Homo sapiens: one gene and its partners. The protein of the gene in region 1 purifies or fractionates together with the protein of each later gene. This does not show direct contact. Each region holds a gene or a part of one and is shown in the gene's direction. Other genes may lie near its edges. The genes, in order: VIPR1, SC5D, ATP6AP2, OSBPL5, SLC7A1, ARFGEF3 and MSMO1.

The links.
Region 2: the proteins of VIPR1 (region 1) and SC5D purify together in Homo sapiens (affinity purification with mass spectrometry; 2 studies listed by BioGRID and IntAct, with this or other methods). This does not show direct contact.
Region 3: the proteins of VIPR1 (region 1) and ATP6AP2 purify together in Homo sapiens (affinity purification with mass spectrometry; one large-scale study listed by BioGRID and IntAct). This does not show direct contact.
Region 4: the proteins of VIPR1 (region 1) and OSBPL5 purify together in Homo sapiens (co-immunoprecipitation; 2 studies listed by BioGRID and IntAct, with this or other methods). This does not show direct contact.
Region 5: the proteins of VIPR1 (region 1) and SLC7A1 purify together in Homo sapiens (affinity purification with mass spectrometry; one large-scale study listed by BioGRID and IntAct). This does not show direct contact.
Region 6: the proteins of VIPR1 (region 1) and ARFGEF3 purify together in Homo sapiens (affinity purification with mass spectrometry; 2 studies listed by BioGRID and IntAct, with this or other methods). This does not show direct contact.
Region 7: the proteins of VIPR1 (region 1) and MSMO1 purify together in Homo sapiens (co-immunoprecipitation; 2 studies listed by BioGRID and IntAct, with this or other methods). This does not show direct contact.

The regions. Positions count from the first base shown.
Region 1 is NC_000003.12:42,509,143-42,512,642, forward strand, and holds part of VIPR1 (vasoactive intestinal polypeptide receptor 1 isoform 1 precursor), read left to right. Parts: intron 1-3,500. UniProt on the Homo sapiens protein: G protein-coupled receptor activated by the neuropeptides vasoactive intestinal peptide (VIP) and pituitary adenylate cyclase-activating polypeptide (ADCYAP1/PACAP).
Region 2 is NC_000011.10:121,299,271-121,302,770, forward strand, and holds part of SC5D (lathosterol oxidase), read left to right. Parts: intron 1-3,500. UniProt on the Homo sapiens protein: Catalyzes the penultimate step of the biosynthesis of cholesterol, the dehydrogenation of lathosterol into 7-dehydrocholesterol (7-DHC).
Region 3 is NC_000023.11:40,594,470-40,597,969, forward strand, and holds part of ATP6AP2 (renin receptor precursor), read left to right. Parts: intron 1-2,779; coding exon 2,780-2,875; intron 2,876-3,057; coding exon 3,058-3,195; intron 3,196-3,500. UniProt on the Homo sapiens protein: Multifunctional protein which functions as a renin, prorenin cellular receptor and is involved in the assembly of the lysosomal proton-transporting V-type ATPase (V-ATPase) and the acidification of the endo-lysosomal system.
Region 4 is NC_000011.10:3,095,811-3,099,310, reverse strand, and holds part of OSBPL5 (oxysterol-binding protein-related protein 5), read left to right. Parts: intron 1-3,500. UniProt on the Homo sapiens protein: Lipid transporter involved in lipid countertransport between the endoplasmic reticulum and the plasma membrane: specifically exchanges phosphatidylserine with phosphatidylinositol 4-phosphate (PI4P), delivering phosphatidylserine to the plasma membrane in exchange for PI4P, which is degraded by the SAC1/SACM1L phosphatase in the endoplasmic reticulum.
Region 5 is NC_000013.11:29,533,189-29,536,688, reverse strand, and holds part of SLC7A1 (high affinity cationic amino acid transporter 1), read left to right. Parts: intron 1-486; 5' UTR 487-500; coding exon 501-870; intron 871-3,500. UniProt on the Homo sapiens protein: High-affinity, low capacity permease involved in the transport of the cationic amino acids (arginine, lysine and ornithine) in non-hepatic tissues.
Region 6 is NC_000006.12:138,168,439-138,171,938, forward strand, and holds part of ARFGEF3 (brefeldin A-inhibited guanine nucleotide-exchange protein 3), read left to right. Parts: intron 1-2,223; coding exon 2,224-2,275; intron 2,276-3,500. UniProt on the Homo sapiens protein: Participates in the regulation of systemic glucose homeostasis, where it negatively regulates insulin granule biogenesis in pancreatic islet beta cells. Also regulates glucagon granule production in pancreatic alpha cells.
Region 7 is NC_000004.12:165,334,169-165,337,668, forward strand, and holds part of MSMO1 (methylsterol monooxygenase 1), read left to right. Parts: intron 1-3,500. UniProt on the Homo sapiens protein: Catalyzes the three-step monooxygenation required for the demethylation of 4,4-dimethyl and 4alpha-methylsterols, which can be subsequently metabolized to cholesterol.

The DNA.
Region 1 (3,500 bases):
GCATGCTTGGCAATTTGCAGACAGTTCTTTCTCCTGCCTCACCTTATCCAGCCTGCTGCATTCTGTGCTCCTCTCAGAGACCAGCTTCTCCTCGGAGGGACTCATGCTTCCTGCTGTGCTACTTGGCTCCTCCTGCCCTAGTTCTCTGGCCCCAGATGATGAGGCTGGGGCTTCTGATTCGAGGCAGTAGCTGTGGTCTCAGGCTTCCCTTGAGGGGATTGAACATGGCCTACGAACCTGAGCATGGCCCACCCTGTCTTTCAGAGCCCCTTGCATCTAACAGCTACAACTCCCAGCATCTTCACCCATACCCCCATCACCACACCTAGCCTTTGCTCCAGATCTCAGAGAACCCCACATGGACAGGAAAAAGCAGGGCTTTCTCTCTAGCCCCTCACCAATTCCTATGCTTGACTGAGCTCCAAAAAGTAAGCTTAAAGGCAGCCTGACCCTGCCGTTGAGCTGAGGCTAGAGAGTTTTGGTCCAGGCTGGGCTCTCAGCACCTTCTTTGGGGCAGGAGTTCCTAAGCCCAGAAGGGACCCAGGCTGAAGAAGACTGAAGAAGTCCACAGCATCTTCTCCATCCTGGTCTTCTTCTGTCCTCTGCCATGGGGCTAGCGGGATGTGGGAGGTGAATGACAGGGAGTTGGCAGGAGAATCCTGAGTCTAGTTGGAGACAGGGACTAACCAAGTCTTGTTCATTCCACCTGCCCCCTCCTCTCTGTGCCCTCTCTTTATACCCACTGTCCTGCCCAGGCTTCATCAGTTCCTGCCTGGACTGGTGCAGTAGCTTTCAGCCCCACCACCTGCAACCTGAGGGATCTTTGTAAAATGTGTATCCCCCATCCTCAGTCTCCTGCTTCAAGTCTCTGTTGGCCCCCATGGCCTAGGAGTGAAAGCTCACACTTGAAAACTGGCATTCCAGGCCCTTCCCAATCCTACCCCAGTCTACATCTCTCAACTTGTCTCCTGATGCCCCCAGAACTCCTTGCTGCAGCTACACCAGGCTTCTCACAGCCTTGCATGTATTAGGCATTTTCATGCCTCCATGCCTGTGCACACGCTGCTCTACTTTCTGGGGTGCTCTTACTCCACTTCTAATTGTCTAACTTGCACATCCTCCATGACCTACCTCTACAGAATGAGTACAGCATACCCATTCTGTAGGAAGCCCAGACTCCAGCTATATCCCACCCTGGAACACTTCCCTGACATCAGTAGACTTGGCTATATTCAGCCAGGGAATTTTTCAACTCTCTCTGTGTTCCTGAAGTCCAGAGGGATAATGAGGATGTTTAGAATAGGGAAATAAATAAGTGGGAGAGGAAGTCCAAAGTCTGCCTGAATTCCTTAGTGATAAGGACTAGAGGGAGCTGCCCTGGCCCGGTCCCTCAAAGGGCAATGGTTGACCAGAGGGTCCAAGGCGAGGCTGTGTTGAAGGATTGATGCAGTCCAGACCAGCGGTCAGAGACTTAGGTCCCATCTGGGAATGCGCATTTGCTGGGTGACCTCAGGTCCCTCTTTGGGTCTCCATTTCCTCTACCCCTCCCCAGATAGGGCTCAACACTAAACTAAATTGTGACAAAGAGAGAGCTCATCTTCCAGACCACACCCACTGTTTCATAAACACCACAGGCTTCGGTACCCACCCCTCCTTTCTCTCCAAACTGCCTCTAAGGAAGGGCTGTGTGTCTGTGCTGCTGAGGGGGCAGAGTTGGCTGGAGAAGTTGACCCAACACTCTTCTACCCTCAGAGAGTCGCAAGCAGAAGCTGCCAGAAATCCTAGGCGCCCATGGTGATTGGGAAACAAATATTTCTTGGCAAACTATATGGCCACAGTCCTGGCTTAAGAAGGCCCAGAAAGTGAGGGCGTCCATTATCTTGTCCTCAGAGGGCAAGGCTGGACACTTTTGTTTACAGCGACCAACAGAAAACTCAACTGATCCAAGCCATAAAGGAAAGGCATCAGCTCATGTTGCTAGCAGTAGAGCTGGTTTCAGGCATGGCTGCATTCACAGACCCAGACAATATTAAGAGAACCTGATTTTTCTCCATCTCTCTATTCTGCCTTCAGCTGTATAGTTTTTATCCGTGTGTTCCACTTGTCAACAAGAAGACAGCAGAAGCTTGAGCCCTTGCTTCCTTTAAGGTTTCCAGTCCAGTGGGGAAAAACCAAATTCACTTTCTTAATCACTTAATCCAAAGTCCCAGGAGTGAGCCTCCTGGCTCTGAGTAGCCTGACTCAGGCCATGTGTCAGGCACTGTGGCCAGGAATGCTCTGATGGACTTAAGCCTTGGTCACATGTCAATCCCCTGGAAGAGGGTTCATCAGAACTCCATGAACTAGAGGTAGGGAAGGAGGTTGTTTCCCAGACACAGATGAGGACATGGCACCAGAAGAGAGTAAAGGATGGTGGAAGGCAGAAACAAGAGATATCTGCTACCATCCATCCTGTTTTGACGTTACAGTGTTATGAGAGATAAGAATGGACAGGAGAATCAGGAGACGCTGGGAAGGGGCCAGAAAGCAGAAAGAACCCTGTTGCTGGTGGGAGATGGGGTTGGGATGGTACCTTGGTGAGAAATGTGCTCCAAGACAGGCAAGACAGACCAATGATGGGACACAAGGCAGGGTAGCCAGTACCCAGATTCCTCTTCCAGAAGCCACCTCTGAGATCTTCCTGGCCACTATTCCCCCTATACTTGAGGATGAAACAGCCACAAATCCCTTGAGACAGAGTGTCTTGAGCATTTCAGCCTGAGTAACCCTTATGGGAAGGAGAGAAAGCACATGACCCCAAAGAGGAACCACAGACAGTTTCCTTGAAGTCTCCTATCTTTTAACAGTTATACGAGTAACTGTATCATGCTCCATCACACAACTGTGTTACTTTCAATAAGTTTTAAATGACTTACCAGCTAATGTCTTTACCCCCATTGGCTGGTAAAGGTGCAAGATGGAGCTCGTGCTCACTGTGGCTTCCAGGGCAACAGCACTTAGGCAGGTGAGGTCTGGATGCTGGGGAAATCTAAAGGAGTCCTGGAGAGGGAGGCCTTCCCTGGACCTGGACGAGGTCAACCATGGTGCTAGCTGCTTCTGGGAGTGTTGGCCTGCAGGTGACCTGTGAGACAGAGGCTCCACCAGAGAGCCCTCAACAGGAATGAGAGAGCTGTTTGGGGTGGAAAGGACTTGGCTGTGCAGCTTCTTAGGCACTGAGTTGTTCAGCTTCAGCTTGGACCCCTCTCCCTCCGCAGCAATGGATTGCTGGCTGCCAGCTGGGATGCACATCCCAGTAAATGGAGCTGATTTACTTAAAACAATGGTCAAAGTACTAAGCACTTTGGTGCCTGCAGGCCAGGAGGGACCCCCTTAAAGGAAGGTCCCCCACCTATGTTCTTCCCACGGACCCACTTCAAGAATCTCTAAGTCGGCAGGGGAGGTGGTTGAGGCCCACGTAGCCTACAGAGAAACTGAGGCCCAGGGAGGTAAGGACCCTGTCC
Region 2 (3,500 bases), on another chromosome or scaffold:
GCCCATGACCAATGTCTAATTCCAACCTGATAGGCCCTTCTCTTTAAGATTCTCAAGCAATCAGATGTAATGAACATTTATTGCGTGTATGTATACATATACATGCACAAGTATTTAACTTTGATTTTATATATATTTGAAAGTTTACTGAATTTTTCTTTTAAAAAGAGAATACATTGTTTATTGTCTGTACCAGTCTATTTTCCATTTGTCATTTGTTACTCCATACATAATTACATAAATTGTTAATATACAAATGAATTATAATACCATTTACAGTATGTACTTATCCCACTTAATGTGAATATTCACATTTTCTAAACAAATATTTGATATGAGCTGGTCATGGTGACTCATGCCTGTAATCCTAGCACTTTGGGAGGCTGAGGTGGGTGGATTGCTTGAGTCCAGGAGTTTGAGACCAGCCTGGGCAATATAATGAGCCCTTGTCCATACAAAAAAATTTTTTCTTAATTGACTGGGCATGGTGGTGCCCACCTGTAGTACCAGCTCCTCAGGAGGCTGAGTCAGAAGGATCACTTGAGCCCGGGAGGCAGAGGTTGCAGTGAGCTGAGATTACACTACTGCACTCCAGCCTGAATGACAGAGCAAGACCTTGTCTCTAAATGAATAAATAAATAATAAAAAAGAACCAAAACCCCCAAATATTTGATTTATTTAATGACAGGGAGAAGTTTTGACCTTTGCAAAATGTATTTATAGGAATTTTGAATTCCGAAATAACATCTGATGCCAAATGTTTTAAGTAAGAATGGTAGTAGACCTGTATTATAAAAAAGGAGATGGTGACTTCCAAAACAGCAGAGTAAGAATCTCTGAAAATCTCTTCTTTATAAAAAGCAACAAAACACTGACAGAAGTTGTCAGAATCAGCTTTTTTAGAGCTCTAGGAATTAAAACTTTATGAGTTAAAGCTTTACAATAATCTTAGCAGCCTTTATTTGAGAAAAGTAGTTGAATCTCAGTAAGAACAATGAGCTTTGGACATTTTCCGTCCTTTACCATCTCCCTTTTGCTGACTTCATGGTAGCCTTGAAAACTAAGCCTTACAACACAGTAACTATGAAAAACAGCAGCCTGGATGGAAGGTACAGAATAGGTTTGCAGCCTCACCAAAGGCCACAACCCAGAAAATCATCACCACTTGATCTCTCTGGCAATTCTCAAGGCTTGTGTTTATATGACCTGTCTTAGAGCTTGTTCAATATCATCCTGTCCCAGGGTGTTTTGTCAAGGAGAGTCATTATTTACACATAACAGGTCTTAGAGGCACTATTATCAGCTGGCACTAACAAAAGCCTGACCAAAAATACTTAAAAGGGAATACTGAGAAATGAGATATCCCTAGGGGGCTTTGAAAAGCTCTGTTTTCCTGAGAATCTAGAATGATTCCCATGAGCAGGGCTGTTGCACATACCCAAGAAAGGGGAGAAGGCCCTAATTTCCCCTTTGGCTGACCTTGAGGGTTTACGCAAGCAGTAAGTTCAGGCCAGTCAATTTTAGAGTGACAACTAAAGTATTGAAAGCATGGCCCAACACAGCACCTTGGCAAAGGCTGGGGGACTTAACTGGTTCAAAGCACTTAAGAAAATCACTCCAGTCATTAGTAAGAGACTTGTAGCTGCACACAACAAATAAAACAGGTATGTAATTAGTTCAGAGAATTACTTAACGCACAGCAACAACAAAAGCAACTTAAAGCCCTGGGGCAGGGTGGGCGGTGGTGCATACAATCTGATTTCAAGAGTTACCCCATCATATTACTTAAAATATCCCATTTTCCATAAAAAATTAAAAAACACAAACAGGAAAGTATGGCCTGTACACACAAAAAGGCAATCAGTCAGTAGAAACTCTCTCTCAGAAAGCCCAGATGTTGGACTTACAAGGCAAAGACTCTAAATCAGCTACTACAAATATAAAAGAACTAAGGAACACCACGTTTAACTAACTAAAAGGAAGTATTAGAACAGTTTCTTCCCAAGTAGAGAATATCAATAAAGTGATAAAAGTTTTTTTTTTTTTTTTTTAAAGAACCAAATGGAAACGCAGGTGTTGAAAAGTACAGTGACTGAAACTGTCTTGCTTAACAGCAGATTTGAGCCAACAGAGCACAGAACTGGAAGATAGGTCAATTGAGATTAAACAGCTGGGAAGAGAAAGAAAATGAAGAAATACAAACAGAGACTTGGGGACACTGTCATGCATTTCCACATAAGCATAATGAGAGTCCTAAAAGGAGAAGAGAGAAAGTCATAGAAAGTTTAAGAAAGAGTGGCCCCAGACTCACCAAATTTGATGAAAAACTTTACACATCCTAGAAGTTCAACAGTATAGGGTTGGGGTTTATTTTTGGGGTGCTGAAAATGTTCTGAAACTTGATAGTGGTAATGATTGCATAGCTCTGAGAATGCTAAAAAACTAGTCAATCATATACTTTAGTGAATTTTATGGTATGTGAATTATATCTCAATAAACCTGTTTCTTTAAAAACAAAAAAAGGAGGAGCATGATATTTATGTAGGGATGGAAAGATCTCCAAGATATATATTCAATTAAGAAAAAGGAACTTCATGGTGTATATAGTATGCCATGTTTTGTAAGGAGGGAGAGAAAAATTTGTCATCATTCCATCTTACATTAACAAACACCGTAAGGATTCTCAGGAAACTAATAGATATGGTCACCCAGAGAGGTGGAAATGAAATGACGGTGTGGTTTACAGTGACATGGATGGAAGCAAGGCTTTGCATTGTATGTCTTTTCCTGTCAGTTTCTCATTTTCTTAAATCCCTGTGGGAATTTAGTGGAGAAATCTCATAGGGAATCTAGTGAAGGAAATAGGCTACAAAGAAGTAAATAAGTATTTTCAGAATTTTCCTTACCTGTGGGCTATTTTGTTTCATGAATTGATGTTTATTAACGTGGCCCAATATGTAGGAGATAAAGGCCGTTTGAACACCTGAAATCTATTGTGGGTAGGCAATTTGCAGATTGGCTTCTTGTTCAAAAATTTCAGTTCAAGTGAGAGACATTTTAGATGCTGAACACGTTTTCTTGTGCGAACAATGCAATGAGGGATGAGTGAGTCGATCATAAATGATAGATTCCATAGTCAGATCACAAAAGCTGACCACAATATCACCGAACTGTATTGTAACAGGACCATGAGTATAGAATGGACTTAAATATGTACTGAACTGACTAATGTTTTTTAGAGTTTAAGCATCTGAAACAGGAGTTGGCAAACTATCTGTAAATGGCCAGGTAGTAAATGCCTTCGGTTCAACGGGCCATACTGTCTCTGTTGCAGTGATACTATAAGCCCACCTTTGTAGCAGAAAAGCAGCCACAGACAGTATGTAAACATCTGGGTGTCGCTGTGTTCCATAAAGATTTTTACAAAGCAGGCTCTGAGTTTGGCCCGTGGGCTGCAATTTACCAACTCCCGATCTGGAATATTGATTAGAGGTAGAGAA
Region 3 (3,500 bases), on another chromosome or scaffold:
GCATTGTCATAATAATGAAATGATGCTGATCAAGTGAAAATTTTGATATAACTATTGGGTAAGAGTGGGGAGATAGAAACAGAAGCAGAGCGCATGGATGGCTCAGCGCATGGATGGGGCAGTGGTTGGTGATGTGAGAGAGCTAAAGCCTCATTTTCTATAATGGATAGTAAATAGACAAGACCTAAAATTGAAAAATCAGGAGATGTAATTTAAGTGTCTTATTTAGAGATGTTAAAAGCAAAAAAAGTCAACAAGAAAAGATAGTTGGAATAGATGCACTCCTAAATAATTCATGGGTTGAGGAGGAAATCACTGTGGAACTTTTTAAATTATTTGGAACTGAGTAACAATGAATGTAGCATTTATTTACAAAATTGGGAGGTGCAGCTAACGTGGTAAGAAAAGGGAAATTTATAGCCTTAAATGCATGTTTTAGACAATTTAGGTTGTCTAAGAATGGAAATTAATGAGCTAAAGAAAGCGGAAGAACTTCAGAGTAAATACACATAAAGTAGAAGGAAGGGAACAATACAGATCAAAAGGCAGATTATTTCACAGGGAGCATTTAAGTCATTTTTTATGTGATTTCTGTGAAAATCATTGCAGAAGATTTTCTTTAAAATTATAAAAATCCAAAATGCCATTTTGAGATTTTTATTAGCATGTAATCCAAAAATAAAGATTTAAAAACAGACTAGCCTCATTTTACATGAGAAGAAGCTGTGCTGTGTGAGGAGCTCATTTTATTGCTTGGCCCTGGTTGGCTGCTCAATGCTTTTCCTAGCAGAAGATGGTAAATGAGATAAAAGATTCAGGGGCAAACCCCACAAAACATAAAAATCAGAGTATCTTAGAATTCCATTTAACGAAGCTTCCATTTGATTAGCTAGCTGTTTTAGTTAGAATTTCAAGTCATACAGGTACAGAAATTTGAGGACAGATATGCATCTCCCTTACAATACAGTGAGAGAAAAACCATCATTCGATATTAAGCAGCCAAGCTTTTTACTTTTTGAGCTTAGCTGCCTATATAATTATTTCTTTTCCTTCATTGGTGTTCATTTGATTCATGAGCTGCTTCAATTTGATCGCTATGGACATGGTTCCTAATCTTCAACTTTCCTGAACCGAGCGCCATTTCACTAAGTGAAGTGAGGCTGGAAAGTTTGCATCATTTGCTCATGTATTCCCCTCACAGCCTGAGGAGGTAAACTCTATGATCGCTAAAGGAAAGCACCTATAGATGATTCAGGGCGGCTGCTAGCAGTATGCTTTTGCAACTTTGAACTCTCTTCCCCCTCTTCACTTACTCATTAACTCATTTTGAGAGAATTTGGGGAAGAGTTAATAAGCATCTTGAGTAAGAGAAAAAAATTATTTCATTTCACAGAATCATAAAATTGATCACTTAATATTGATGCTGGGCCTGGGCATGGTGGCTCACGCCTGTAATCCCAGCACTTTGAGAGGCCAAGGCAGGCAGATCACATCAGGCCAGGAGTTTGAGACTAGCATGGCCAACTTGATGAAACCCCGTCTCTACTAAAAATACAAAAATTAGCCAGGCGTGGTGGTGCGTGCCTGTAATCCCAGCTATTCAGGAGGCTGAGGCAGGAGAATCACTTGTACCTGGGAGGTGGAGGCTGCACTGAGCCGAGATCGCGCCACTGTACTCCAGCCTGGGCAACAGAGTGAGGCTCTGTCTCAAAAAAAAAAAAATGTGATGCTGGGATTTTATCAGTAAGACATAATCACATTGATTTCTGCCTGTATCATATTAGCGTTACTTTGCTACTTGTAAACATGAATCTTTAAGTAGTAAGGGAACTACTGAATGAAAGATCAATGTAAGAAATCTCCATTAAAACAAAAACATGACTGTACTGCTTGTTTTAATACAGTAATACTGGGAATGAAATAATTTTTTTAGGGGAAAAATAACTGTAATTTATTTTTTTAAATCATGTACTGCAAAACAAATCTATGGGGATAGAAGTCAGAATTTTTGTTACCCTTGAGGGTGGAGGTAGTACTTCGAGGGCGCTGATAGTGTTCTGTGTCGATCTGGCTGGGCTACCTGAGTGCATGCATGTGTAAACATTTGTTGAGCTGTTACCCCAAGATTTGTATACTATATTATATGTATTTTGCACTTTAATAAAAAAATTGAAGGAAAAAAGTAGGTCTTATCACCATTGGTTATTTCAATCTAATAATATCAACATGTCCTAAGATAAAGGCTTCAAAAACCTTGTGACATACTTAACACCTTATCTAAGAGTCTTTAGGCTATCTGAAGACAAATGTTAAATCTCATTAAACATTTTTAAAATTTTGAAATGAAAGATGAATTCCATTTTTATTTCAATTAAATTCAATACTCAGATTCCTCTAACCTCTTAAATGCAAATTAAATACTTTATTGTGGAATATGCATTCATCGTGGCACATTTAGTCAATATTGAAACCAAATGTATTGCTGCTTCAAATACATGAATGACCACCAGAAAATGGTTTGTGCTAGATATAGTGTTGTGTCCATCAGGTTTAAGTTATTTTCCACTGAGGCATGATGGGAGATACAGACTTGGCTTACCAGGGGGCTGTTTAATCTTCTGTGCCCTCAAAAGGGCTTGTTTGGAAATGATTTCGGGCTTCTAAATTTCCATAGAAAGTGCTGGAAAAAAGTTTAAGGCTTCTTTTTAAATACCATCTGAATGATTTTTCTTCCCACTTTGGTTCACATAATAATTGCGTTCTTACTCTTAAATTTCAGGCAGTTCCTTTTAGTCTTGACAGTGTTGCAAATTCCATTCACTCCTTATTTTCTGAGGAAACTCCTGTTGTTTTGCAGTTGGCTCCCAGTGAGGAAGTAAGTGATAAGGGTTTTATTCAAGACATTTTAAAAAATAAGCTTTTATTATTTGAAAATTATGAAATGTAATTTTATTATGAAAATATAAAACTAATTTATGAACAATGTTGTCATACCTCTGGGTATTGGAACTAATCTGTAGAATTTGAGCAACTTAAAATTTTCTATTCTTCTTACAGAGAGTGTATATGGTAGGGAAGGCAAACTCAGTGTTTGAAGACCTTTCAGTCACCTTGCGCCAGCTCCGTAATCGCCTGTTTCAAGAAAACTCTGTTCTCAGTTCACTCCCCCTCAATTCTCTGAGTAGGAACAATGAAGTAAGTGCAGTTATTCAATGAATACATGAATATCATTAATTTCCGTCTTTTTAAAAAATAGAGACAGGGTCTCACTCTGTTGTCCAGGCTGGTCTTGAACTCCTGGCCTCAAGCAATCCTGTCTTGGCCTCCCAAAGTGCTGGGATCACAGGCTTGAGCCACTGCATCTGGCCTCCCATTCCTTATACTACTTGAAATTTTGGAAATTTTGCTATTTTAGAAAATGAAAGATTGTGCACATTTACTGCTGGGGTAGATTCTTCTTTAGTGTAATTTTCTTATGACTCTCATGAATAAACTGATCC
Region 4 (3,500 bases), on another chromosome or scaffold:
ACATGTATCTGCCATTACCACATCTCACAGAATAGTTGCACTACCCTAAAAATCCCTTATGATTAGACGTGACTAGATGGAGCCACATATTCCTCAGTCCCTCCAGGCCCTGGCTTTTTCCGGAATGTCATGTAGTTGGAATCATACGGTGTGGAGCGTTTTCAGATTGGCGTCTTTCACTTGGCAATATGCACTTAAAGATTCCTCCACTAGGCATGATGGCTCATGCCTATAAATCCCTGCACTTTGGGAGGTAGAGTTGGGGGAATCACTTGAGCCCAAGAGTTCAAGACCAGCCTGGGCAACATGGCAAAACCCTGTCTCTACAAAAAGTACCAAAAAACTAGCCAGGCATGGTGGTGCACCTGTGGTCCCAGCCTTGGGAGGTTGAAGTGGGAGAATAACCTGAGCCCAGGGGGCAGAGGCTTTGAGGAGCCATCGTGGCACCAGTGCATGCCAGCCTGGGCTGGCGTGAGATCCCATCTCAAAAAAAAAAAAAAAATCTTTGCTGGGCTCAGTGGCTCACAACTGTAATCCCAGCACTTTGGGAGGTTGAGGCAAATGGATCACCTGAGGTCAGGAGTTTAAGACCAGCCTGACGAACATGGAGAATCTCCGTCTCTAATAAATATACAAAATTAGCCAGACATGGTGATGCATGCCTGTAATCCCAGCTACTCAGGAGGCTGAGGCAGGAGAATCACTTGAACCCGGGAGTTGAAGGATGCAGTGAGCTGAGATCATGTCATTGCACTCCAGCCTGGGCAACAAGAGCGAAACTCCATCTCCAAAAAAAAAAAAAAAAAAAAAAAAAATTCCTTCATGTCTTTTTATGGCTTGATAGCTCTGGATTTCTTTTTAATTTTTGCTGATTGAAGGTTTTTGTTTGTTTGAATTATTTGAACCTGAGGTTTCGTGGCTTTGATGAAGTCCAGAAAATTTTAGCCATTTTTTTTAAGTGCCTCACTCCTGATTTCTCCATTTTTCCTAGAACTCCAATGAGACAGAATTTGAACCATCTCCTCCTTTGCTTTGTCTCTCTTAATGTTTCCATCGTATCTCTTATCTCTTTGCATTCTAGATAACTTATGTAGATGTATCTTTAACTCTAATTAACTTGACGTGTAACTCATCCACTGAGTTTTCCATTTTGATATATTGTTTCCCAAGAAGTTCTACTTGGTTTCATTTCAAACCTGCCTGGTTTTTTTGTTTGTTTGTTTTTATTTTTGTTTTGAGACGAAGTTGGGGTTTCACTCTTGTTGCCCGGGCTGGAGTGCAATGGCATGATCTCAGCTCACTGCAACCTCCACCACCTGGGTTCAAGCAATTCTCCTGCCTCAGCCTCCTGAGTAGCTGGGACTACAGGCGCCCGCCACCACGCCCAGCAAATTTTTTGTATTTTTAGTAGAGATGGGGTTTCACCGTGTTGGCCAGGCTGGTCTCAAACTCCTGACCTCGGGTGATCCGCCTGCCTCGGCCTCCCAAAGTGCTGGGATTACAGGTGTGAGCCAGTGCGCTCGGCCTTGCCTGTTCTTTTTATACTCGTGCATTGTTCCTTGGTCATGTTTCCAATCCTTTCTCATAAATCTTTGAGCATTGTAATAAGCACAGTTGTTTTATCATCTCTAGCTGGTCACTCTCATATTCTGTTTTGTTTGCTGCTGTGTCCTCACTGACCATAGTGTTGCCCTTGAAGGTGCTCGATAATTATTCAAAGAATGGCTGTATTTAGTAAAACCTTGGGATTCTAATTTGCTAGTTTTGTGTTTGTTTGTTTTCGTTTTGTTGGCTGAAATTGTTTTGTTGGCTCTCACATTTTCTTAGTAGGTTGTTTCTGGGACACAGAGGAAGTATAGATTTGAATCCCAAACTTACCCTACACATTCATGGAGAGTTCTGGGGTTTCTTTTTAACCCCGGAGCGCAGGCCCAATACAAATGTTTCCTTGACTCTCCCTCTGGAATGAACGGCCTTTCTGCGACTGTTCCTTCTGTTGAGGGTGTAGCCATGTGAGAGTGCCTGCTTAGTGGAAATGTCTCGGAAAAAATCTCTCCTGGTTACTCTGACCCAAGGACCTGTCTACCACTTTCCACGGCAACCTCAGAAACCAAGATCTCAGATCGACAAATGCCCCTCTTTCTCTTCCCCCCTTTTCCTCTCCTCCTCCTCCCATCTTCCCCTTCTTTCCTCTCCTCCTCCTCCCATCTTCCCCCTCTTTCCTCTTCTCCTCCTTCCATCTTCCCCCTTTCCTCTCCTTCTCCTGTCTTCCCTCTTTCCTCTCCTCCCCCTCCCGTCTTCCCCCTCTTTCCTCTTCTCCTCCTCCCACCTTCCCCCTCTTTCCTCTTCTCCTCCTCCCATCTCCTCCCTCTTTCCTCTCCTCCTCCCGTCTTCTCCCCTTTATTTTTTCTTGTGGGAGAATTCCCATCTTTTCTTGCATGCTCATTGACTCATCCATGCTTCATATATTTTTTCAACTTTTTATTATGGCAAAGTTCAAACATATATCAAAGTACAGTACACCCCATATACCCACAGCACAGCAATGCACCCACCTTCATGCTCTCCCCTGAATTAATTGGAAGTAAATCCCAAATATCATGTCATGTCATTTGTGTATTTTATTTTATTTTATATCACTAAAGTTAAGGATTTCCCTTCTTTCTTTCTTTCTTTCTGTCTTTTTTTTTTTTTGACAGAGTCTTGCTGTGTTGCCCAGGCTAGAGTGCAATGGTGCAATCTCAGCTCACTGCAACCTCCGCCTCCTGAGTTCAAACGATTCTCCTGCCTCAGCCTCCCGAGTAGCTAGCATTACATGCGTGCGCCACCACACCTAGCTAATTTTTGTATTTTTAGTAGAGATAGGGTTTCACCATGTTGGCCAGGCTGGTCACAAACTCCTGCCCTCAGGTGATCAGCCTACCTCGGCCTCCCAAAGTGCTGGGATTACAGGCGTGAGCCCCCACGCCAGGCCGGGATTTCCCTTCTTAACCATAGCCACAATACTATCATCAGATGAAAAACAAACAAACAAACTCTTAGTTGTCATCGAGTCTACAATCTGGTTCATATCCCCAGCTGCCACGTGCCTGTGTCTTGATCCCCCACACACGTGACAGTTGGCCGTTTGGCTGGGTCTCTGCATCAGGCCATGCTCCGTGCATGGATGTCCTATGTTTACATCTCCTTGATGTCCCTCCCTCCTGTTTTTCCCTTGCAGAGTATTACTCATTTCCTCCTAGTCCCCTCTAGCATGGATTTTCCTGGCTGCATTCCTCTGCCCTGGGGATTTCCTATAAACCACGAATTGATTTGATCTCGAGATGCCTGATCACGTTCAGCACAGTTTTTTTCAACACGACGCTTAATGGGGGTTTTGTGTCTTTCCACAGCAGGGTGCACAGGGCCTGTTGTTCCTTGTGACATTAGTGGACATTGATTCTCAATGCCTGGATCCATTCATGTAAAAGGCATTGCTAGATGGTGACGTTCCATCCTCT
Region 5 (3,500 bases), on another chromosome or scaffold:
GTTATTGCCATTCAGGGCCTCTGAGTTTTAATAATTTAATAATTTAATTTAGTAATGAAATTAAGATATGGTTTGGTTTGCTTTCTATTACAGCATACTTGAACTAACACCTTGTTTTTCCTGGTGTATTATCTGATGACTGAGTGTAGGAACAATGTCATTAATGTGTGTTTCCTCTACTGCATAATTTCCACCCATGGAAGAGTCTCCATTAAGAGGACCTGCTACAAATGTGGAAGCTCAGAGACCTCGAAATGAAGTCATCTGTATCTGTTGGCCTGCTGGGTTAATTCTGTATGTGCTGGTGAAACTGGAGAAGTCTGCGTGCTTCTGACAATTGATGGTGGAATTCTACGAATTAAAGCGTTTTAGCAGGAAATGATTATGAAGGACCTGATCACTGTCTGTGTTTCCATAATGTGATAAGATTAGAGTAATGGGTGAAATGAGGAGCAATCAGGAAACATCTTTGTTCTTTTTCAACAGCTCTGAACAGCAACATGGGGTGCAAAGTCCTGCTCAACATTGGGCAGCAGATGCTGCGGCGGAAGGTGGTGGACTGTAGCCGGGAGGAGACGCGGCTGTCTCGCTGCCTGAACACTTTTGATCTGGTGGCCCTCGGGGTGGGCAGCACACTGGGTGCTGGTGTCTACGTCCTGGCTGGAGCTGTGGCCCGTGAGAATGCAGGCCCTGCCATTGTCATCTCCTTCCTGATCGCTGCGCTGGCCTCAGTGCTGGCTGGCCTGTGCTATGGCGAGTTTGGTGCTCGGGTCCCCAAGACGGGCTCAGCTTACCTCTACAGCTATGTCACCGTTGGAGAGCTCTGGGCCTTCATCACCGGCTGGAACTTAATCCTCTCCTACATCATCGGTAGGTCCCAGGGGTCCGGAGCTCGTGCCCTCTACCACTTTTCTGTTTGTTCCCACCTCCAAAGTGTGGGTGGATGCCCCACAGGGAGGTCATTCTTGTTAACACGAGAGGCACAGAATTAATAGGATGTTTCTGATTCATTTAGAGGTATTTAGTTTCTTTTAGTAGGTTTTTAAATTACTAGAGTAAATGCATCACTGATAGAGAAAAATTGGGAAAATAAAGAAAAGCATGAAGAAGAAAGTAGAAATACCCTGCCTGACAACATGGAGAAACTAATTCTCTCATTCATTCATTCATTCTTTTAATAAATGTTCATTGAGTACCTGCTCTGGGCTGGGCATTGTGCTAGATACTAGGGATCCCATGAAGGCATAAGACACTCTGTGTTCAGAAGTTTACTGTCTACAGATACAACTATGGTTAACATTTTTGTGAATTTAAATGTGTATTTTTCTACAGTGTATCTCTTTATAAAACAATATATAGTAAACATTTCTCATATCATTAGCTATTTTTCCACAGTAACATTTCTAATGCTTGCCTACCATTGTATAGATTTATATACACAGCGTAATGTATTGGTGTCTTTATGGGATGTTCAGATTGTTTCCATTATGTTGTTGCTGTTGTTATTAACAGTTAATTACTTTATGTCTTTGGGCTTAGCCATGATTCTTTTCCTTAAAACTGTCTAAGGAGCAGAATGGCTGTCAGTGGGTCTGCGTGTTTTTAAGGCCTTTGTTGACTGTGATCCTCCACGTAGCCAGGGGCCCCTTTCCCTGCAGTGTGGGCACTGGGCATCGGCCTGTAACACATCCACCCAGCAAATAAGGAAGCAAATGTAGAAAATCTTTCCGGTTTGCCAGGTAAACACGCTTTGCTTCTCTTTATGCTTTTTTGTATTTTGATTACAACTGAAGTTGAACACATCAACTTAAAAGAAACAAAAACCTAAGTCTCAGAAGCAAAGGGTACAAACGGCCACTCAACATGCCATTTATTTTTTTTTTTCTCAAACTTTTTGGTAATAGCGAAAAAACAGTAAGACCTGTTAAGTTGAGCCATGTGGGTTCCGCCTTGCTTCTGTGTCAGCTCCCACTGGACCCCACCACACCCTCCCTGGCCACACATGCTGCCTGCTGGGATCCTCGCAGCCCTGGGCTCCCCACAGCCCTATCTCTGCATGGGGGGCATCACTCCCCCTTCACCAGGACAGCTGGGGGAGGGCACACACTCACATTCTCCGAGCAGCACCTTCTCTTTCTTTCCAGCAGCTGCAGTATCTGCTGAGAGCCAACATAGCTTAGTCTTCTGGGTTCTAAAATAAAATTCACAATGTTTTCTTTCAATGCCACATCAAAACTTAACAACCACACATGGTTCTCACAAGCTGAAGTCTCTCACTGGGAATGTAGCTATTGTAAATGGACCGTTATGTTTCCAGAGGATTTACCTGAGCATAAAATATACATTGAGCATGAAATGCTTGCAGCTTCTAGACCAACAAATGTAAGGCTCTGCGAGAGTGCCGTTTGCTTGTGTGAAACCATTTGCATGCATTATAAAAATGTGTTCTCAGCCTTAGCTGCTGGGAAGGGCAGTTTTTCCAGCAAACATTTTTTTAAAAGGCATAATTCAGAAATTGGGAGTGGATAGGCTGGGAAGAAAGGCTGGGGTAGCCCCTGTCACTGAGCAGGACAGGGTTTGGGAGCCACGTTTGCCATAAGCCAGCTGCTTTGGGGGTGACAGGGAGATGGTGAGACCATTTTTACAGAATTCATAATAGATTGGCTGCTTAGGAGGAAGAAATGTGGTTAAACTTCTGAGTTGTTGGAAAGATACTTACTTATCATAAGACCAAATAGTGAAATTGAATCTCTGCAGATCACTGTGGCAATATGCTGTGGATAATTAGGACCATGGTCACCGACAAGGCCCGCTTTGAAAATAAAGGAAAACGCTCTATGAAAATGCTGGAATTTTAGTGACATTTCCTGAGAAACACCAATGGAAACACATTCTGACACCCTTTAGAATTATGTGAGAGGAGAGAATGAGAGTGAAAGACAGCAGCCAACTATTGTTGGCATTTTGAGTGCTGCCCTGTTGGTGTTCTTCGGCACCGGAGGGTGCAGGCTGAGGGGAGAACGAGGAGGGCTGGGGTCTGTCTGCTGTCCTGCACTCTGGGGATGCTGTGGCCTCCGAATCAGGTTCAGGCAAAAAGTGGCAGAGGTGGCTGATGCCAACACTGAGATGAGCAAGTGGCTTTGTCCCTGAGATGGAGTTCAGCCCCTTCAAGGACTTCCTAGGGCCCCTCTTCTTGCTGAGAGAAGAATTATGGTGCAGGCACCATCATCTCTGCAGCCAAGGGGTTCCTAGAAAAGAGGCTTCCTAAGCAGCATTCCTCCAGACTGCCAGCTGCACCCCAGGAGTGCATTATGAAATCAATTTTTCATGAGTTGTCATCAATGTTTACTTTTTTTAATGAAACAAAGTAGGTAGCATTAAATATTATCAGAGTGCCTCTCAGGTGGTAAGGGTAACACTCGTTTTGCGAACTTTTTATTCGGATATATATATTTGATAGAATACACCTGTGTATATTGGGTAGGATGTGAAGTGCATTC
Region 6 (3,500 bases), on another chromosome or scaffold:
CCAGATCATGAAAGTCCTTGTTGGGCTCTCTAAGGATGAGATGGGGAGTCATTTGGGGTGGAGGAAATGCTCTCATCTGGGTCTTGACAGGGTCTCTCAGGATACTGTGTTAAGCAGAGACTGCAGCTTCAGGGGCAAGCCCAAAAGCTAAAAGCCTAGAACAGAGGCTGGTACAGTCATCCAAGTGAGAGAAGGTGACAGCTTGGACCAAAGTGGCAGGACAGAGTCAGGGAAGATGTTGAGATTCTCCAAGCATTTCAAACTTATTATTCCCTCCACTCGGAGTGACCTCTCCTTATCTACTTTAAATAAATCATTTGTGGTCTCATTACCCCCAGCAGGAAGCCCTGACCTCACAGTCCACAGTAGGACCTCCTGTTCCACTTTTGCCTAATTCCCTGTATTTTCCTTCCTGGCGTTTATCATGCTTTGAAATGAGAATGTGCACTCCATGAATTCATGGATCGTGTCTGTTCTCACCACTGGGTCCCTAGCCCAGGACCTGGTTCAGTGTTTAGTGAGAGATCAAAGAAGGGAGACAGGAATTGGCACTGGCGTCTAAGGACTGTGTCAGGCCCTTTATGATCATGATCCTATCAGCTCCTCACAAGCATCCCGGGAGGAAGGTGTCATTGTCTTCTTTCTAAAGATGAGGGAACTGAAACTTACAGAGGATAAGTGACCTGCCCCCATCCCACAGTGTCACAAGCTGGAGTGGAGCTGGGAGTGGAACCTGGTTCTCTTTGCTTTCCTTCTTGATGCTTCCATGGTGCCCTCTCCCCAGCTACCATTCTGTCCTGGGTGCTTACAGCAAAGCTGCAGGCCATTTTCTCCTTGACCTTTGGATGCTCTTCGCCTTGGGTTCCACACTGATCCCATGTGCCTGGGAGTCTCACTGCACTTAGAGCTGTAGTTTCATGGTGGCTGCTGTGTGACAGCCTTTTCTCTTTTCCTTTTCTTCTAGCTTGCTCTTAGCCTTATAGAGCTGGGCACTGTTACCCAGCCTTGGTTGACTATATATCCCTCTGTCCTGCGGGAAAACCATGCTGATCTGGTTGTTCACTGTCACTGCCTTTCCTTGGGGAGCAGCATCGGCTCATCCTGGGTGCCAGTCCCTGCTGTGCTAACTGGTGGGCTGCACTGGCCTGTGTGGCCTTTGAGCTGCTTCCTGTACCTGCATCTCAGGGCTTCCCTTTCTTGTCATCCTGTCTCATCTTAAGCATTGACTTCAGTCCTTCATCTTCCTCCATTGGCCTTGTCTTCACAGAACCAAGAACCCTGCTGAACTCATCTTTCTGTTTTGCTGATTAATTGTCTTTCTGAAATCCACTCTTTTGCCCCACTGGCCATATCAAGCCCAGATCCTATCAGGCCTGTTCTTAGCCTTGAGTCTCTGATATATGTATATATTTCACATTTGTTATTCTCTCTGATCTCTGAGCAAGGTGGGAAGAGACATTTCTCCTTCCCCAATGAAAATAGTTCAGATAGACAGGGCTTGTTGACTCCAAGGAGTGAAGAAAGGGGTCAACACAATTTCAGCTGCAAGACTGGAGACAAGTTGGAAGGATTGAAGTAGTACAGTTTTTTGGGGAAGAGACTGGTGAGCTTTTCATTATCTCTAAAATTGGAGGCAGCAATAGTGTGAAAAATCCACAAACAATGGCAAAGTATTGAACATCCAGGTTGGATTAACAAGATTTGGATGTGAGCCTTCCAATCAATATCCTAACTATACTGTAATTTTTTAAAAAAAGTTTAATCTACTGTGTCACAAATGTGTATGAGAATAATAAGATGTTGTGTAAGTGCTTTGTGAACTTGAAAGTCTTTCACAAGTATGAATTATTGTGTAAGGATATTGAAACAGTATTTTCAAGGAAACAGCTTTTCTTTATTTTTATTACAAGAATATTGTATCTTAGTTGTAACTAGATTCAGTGGTTCAGACTAGGAATTTAACTATTCGTTCTTTATCTGTTTAGGGAAATGTGCCCTAACTTTTAACTTTCCCCTCCTAGTTTGCAAGGTCCAGGGAAATCTCTGGGGCTCTCAAGGGAAAAGGATTTTAAAATATGAAGGACTTGCATGCAGATAGTTGAGAATTGACTAGTTTATAATTAGAGGAATTCCTGAAAAGAGAAACTAACAGAGAAATTCATGTACAATGTATATTCTCAGTGTTTAAATATTTATTTTAACTTTGTAATTTTTCTTTTGCAGAAACTCTAGGTGGTCTGGATACCATTGTCAAGATCCCTCCACATGTACTGAGGTAGGAGATGGACATTGTATAATATCACAGAAGTCAATATTACCCACTGAAGGCCCAGATAACCACATTGGTTTACAGTGTGTCTTAGTTTGTTTTGTGCTGCTATAACAGAATACTACAGACTGGGTGATTTATAATGAACAGAGATTTATTAGTTCATGGTTCTGGAGGCTGAGAAGTCCAAGATCAAGGGGCCACATCTAGCAAGGGCCTTCTTGCTGCGTCATCCCAAAGGTAGAAGGACAAAAAGAGGGTGGAACAGAGAAGAGAGAAGGGGACTGAATGCACCCTTTTCTAACAAAGCCCCACTCCTGTGATAACAGCATTCATCCATTCATGGAGCAGAGCCCTCATGGCCAGATCACCTCTCATTAGGCCTGACCTCCCAATACTGTTGCATTGGGGATTACGTTTCCAACACTTACTTTTGGTGGGGACACGTTCATATGATAGCATAGCATTTTACTTGCTGACTAAAGGCTTTCTTGCACCCATGAGCTGGGATATTTCATGAGGTTACCATGATGTGAACCTGATTGCATTCGCTCCCCCTGTCTGTAGAGGGAATGAAATCAGTGACCTAAAGGAACCAGCCATGGAAGTCCATGGTAAAAGGATCAAATTGGTCAAGGAGAGACATGATCAAAACTTATGTGAAGGAGTAGAAAGAAAATTGCACTCCCTCTGATGGGCATGCACCCCTACACTAGGTAGTGTGGATTTAAGCTCTGATTGGCAACCCTGGCTGGACATCATCTGACTGGTTGTGAAGTCCACAGCCACATGTAGCAGCCCAGAGATAGGAAGCCTATTTCCCCACCTTCTTCCCCTCCCACTATAACTTCCCCCAACCCTCACTGGGAGAGAAATGCCTGCCTCTGTAGAAAAATTGGAAAGAACAATACAACAAAAAAGAAAGTTGTCCATAACTACATCACCTAAGGATAACCACTGATAACAGTTTAATAGATTTTCTTAAATGTCTTTTTCTATACACATATATTTTTATAAATTAATATAAAATTTTATTCACGACTTTGTTGCCTGCTTGATTTTTTTTTACTCAAAACCATATGAAGAATATTTTCTAATGCCAGTATATGTTCTTCAAATTAAAATGTTACATATACTTCCATTATATGGCTGTAGCATAATTCATTTAGCAGTTTTCCTATTGTTTAATAACACTTGGGCTGTTTCCAGGGTTTTCTTTGAGATTATAAAG
Region 7 (3,500 bases), on another chromosome or scaffold:
TTGCAATTCCGTGTGTATTTTACATTAATTTTAGTCTATCTCAATTTAGACTAGCCATGTTTAAAGTGTTTGGAAGCCACATGTTACTAGTTGCTCCTGAATTGAGCAACACAGTCCTAGGTCATTATTGATAACATTTCAAGAATACTTTGTTAAATTGGGCTTTAAGTAGATGTGATGGTTATCTAACTTAAGTTTATGAATTTTAATGTTTAAGCTAGCTGGAAAGGAAAGGTGTGGTGATTTGCGCATATTTTGCAGTTCACCCCAACTCTATGTTCCAGTAAATCTAAGGGACTGTTAATACACTACGACCTTGATCAGGGCTATTCAAGTTTTTTTTCCCTAAATATATGGTAGGTAGTTCTGCAGCATTCGTATCATCCCAAATAAGGAGGTGATGCTCCTCGTTTCTGGATATTTGCTTCATTGCACTAAATGTTGAGAGGTCGCTATGTACATGACAAGGTGAAATCTCATATGTAGCCTGTGAGCTTGACGTGAGAATTTGGAGTAGCTTATTAGAAAGATGAATTATTTGTTAGAATTTGTAAGCTGATGATAGTTTCTAGTGTTTGCTGTTTACTTTTCATAAAAAGTCATTCCAAACTAAAACTCAGGGGCACACAGTCTTGGTAGAAAGTAGACCATTGAGAGTATTCATCTATGGAAAGTAATTTACATTCACTTAGTACAATTGGCCCTCCATATCCATGGGTTGTTGTATCCATGGATCCAACCAACTGCAGATCAGAAATATTCAGGGGAAAAAAATTGTGTCTACACTGAACATGTACAGTCTTTTTTTTCCTTGTCATTATTCAAAATGACAACTATTTATAGAGCATTTGCATTTTATTAAGTATTATAAGTGCTGTAGAGATGATTTAAAGTATACGAGAGGATTCGTGTAGGTTATGTCAAATACTATGTCATTTTATATCAGGCACTTGAGCATCTTCAGATCTTGGTATTTGCAGAAAGTCCCAGAACCAATCCTCAAAAGATACCAAAGGACAACTGTATATATTTTGGATGGCAGTCTGTACACATTCTCTGTTATCATTCTGTTAGTTTCACAGCCTCTCCCAGAGTCTCACTTTAAGCAGGTATTAATATTAGTCCTCTCTGGGGATAATGCAGGGGTCAGATGACTGTGGACTCCAGGCCAAAGGAGAAAAGAGCAAAGGGTAAAGGCGAAGGAAATAAAAAATAGGAGGGCCAAAGGAGAGTACTCTGTGACCCTCAATTAAGGTCACAGAAGCTCCAAAGTGCTTTTTAGGAAAGCAGCTGCTTTGAAAGGCAGAATTAAGTTTGGACGTCTAAGTTCTAATGCACCTTTAGGGTGATTGTGGCTGCCGTGTTTCACCCAGTGATTTATTTATAGGGCTTATTCATTGTAATTCATTGTATGGCTGGCCAGGCAAAAGCATCCTTTTTCTCCTTCACTGCAGTTTGTAACTGACTCACTGGTTAGAAGTAGTAACCTTTGCAGAGAGACAAAGGACTTTCTCAGGCAAGGGTATATGAGCAGCTTTAAAATATAATGTGGCAAAGGAAAGAATAAGCTGTAGTCTAGTTGGTCAGAGCTAGTTGTTTATGAACAGATTGTAAGGCTGGATAATTTGACTTCAAGTCTGTACTCAGCAAGTCTTTATGTTTCATAACCATTAAAGTCCATGCTTTGAGCATTTTTGATAAAAAATGTGATTTTAAACCAGGACTAGTTTTCACAAGTTAAAGGAGTTTTAAAAGAAACCAAAATATTGGTACAAATTAATTACAGGTTTATGCATTTCGAAGGCAGATACCCTGATTAACATTGAGGGTATCAATTGTTTAAGATAAAATATTTGAGAATTATATTTAACATATGCAATAAATGTTTTTATTCTTAAAATTGTCGAAAAGAATAGAAGAAGTTGGTGGTGGTGATGAAATAGTACTAAAGACTTTCTGCTTTCAAACAGAACAGACAACTGGAGAGCTAATGCACATCCTTGCTAGTTAGGCGAAAATTTCACAGGAATGAAAAAGTAAAGCAGACTTTGCAGGATCTATTTCTTTAAAAAAAAAAAAAACATACATCTTAGTAATTCTCCAAAAATTTTCCTCAAAGATAAATGTACTAAAAATATTATTTCTGAAGTTTGTGGCCCTTGTAAAGGTATTCCTTTATATTAAGTACAGTTATGCATAAAGAAAGTAAAATATGGTAAACTTTCATATTGCACTAGGTATGAATTTGTATTGCTAACTGTCTTTGTAACTAATTTATGTATACTGTAAATGGTATAGCATGTGATTTTATTATAGTTGATTAACTTTGTAATTTCTGTAACTGCATCGATATCCCAGTCTACCTGGAAAATTAAGTCTATTAACCATAGTTGCTGTAGGAGACAGTACTATTGCCAACTGAAGCCTGAATCCTTCATTTATTTTGTCCCCAATTACAGAGTGGAGGTTTAGAGGAGTGGGGTTAGATAATGCTCAGATTAGAAATACAAAGGCAGCTGTCAGATCCTCCCATTTTATTGTTGAAGAAACTGAGTTGTAAACATCACAAGAGCTAGTTAACTGGTGAGTAGCAGCCCTGGTATTAGAGCACAAGTCTCTGGATTGATTCTTAGTTCAGTGCTTTTCCTATTTTTGTCAGGAAGATAACCCTTAAAGAATTTCAAGAACAGAGCTGGATCTGGAGACCTAGATTTTAGTTAGTCCAACTTCTGCTAATAACTGCGTGTGTGACCCTGCCCAAGCTGGTTGACCTCTTTGGGCTTCTGCTGATGCGCAGTAGTTCCCGTACTTTGGATATCGTGGTTCAATTAAAAGAGTTTTGTTGGCGGATACCTGAATTTTTCAGCAGTGACATTTAAAACAAAGCAATAACTGATATTTATTGTCACCATCGTTTTGTTAAGCCCAAAGCACTTTTTTAAGTGCAGTCCTATAAATTGAATACATTTAGTTAGTGTTTGTTTTGTTTTGCTTTGTTTTTTATAATGACTTGCTAAGCAAATGGGTATCCTGATGAGGTCTTAACGAACATCCCATGTTGATCTAACTTTTCTCATTTTGACTTGAATCTGTGAACTCCATAATCAGGACATATCTGTGTACTTCTCAACTCAGAGAGTTTATAATTCTGTCATTGGATTTGAACAAAAGTGCATTTATTTGTTGGAATGAATACCACTGAGTGCCTGGAAGCATCGACTTACTGTGTAAAAGGCTTCCAATGCTTCGTATACAACTTCTTCAATTGTGGACACCCAACAGTAATCTTAGCATATTATATTTCTTCTTCTCTGAAACTTCTGGTAAAAGAAGTGAAGTGAATGATCTGTGGCAGCAAAGACTGGAGAATTATTCATTCCATAGTGTTTCTTAGTTTGTTTGAGATCATCATGGCTAGGCGCATCTGTTAACAGTTTCTTCACCTGAAGTAGTGATAGTAGTTGTCAAGAATTTAGAAGGCAAAGATTCCTGAGTCTTAG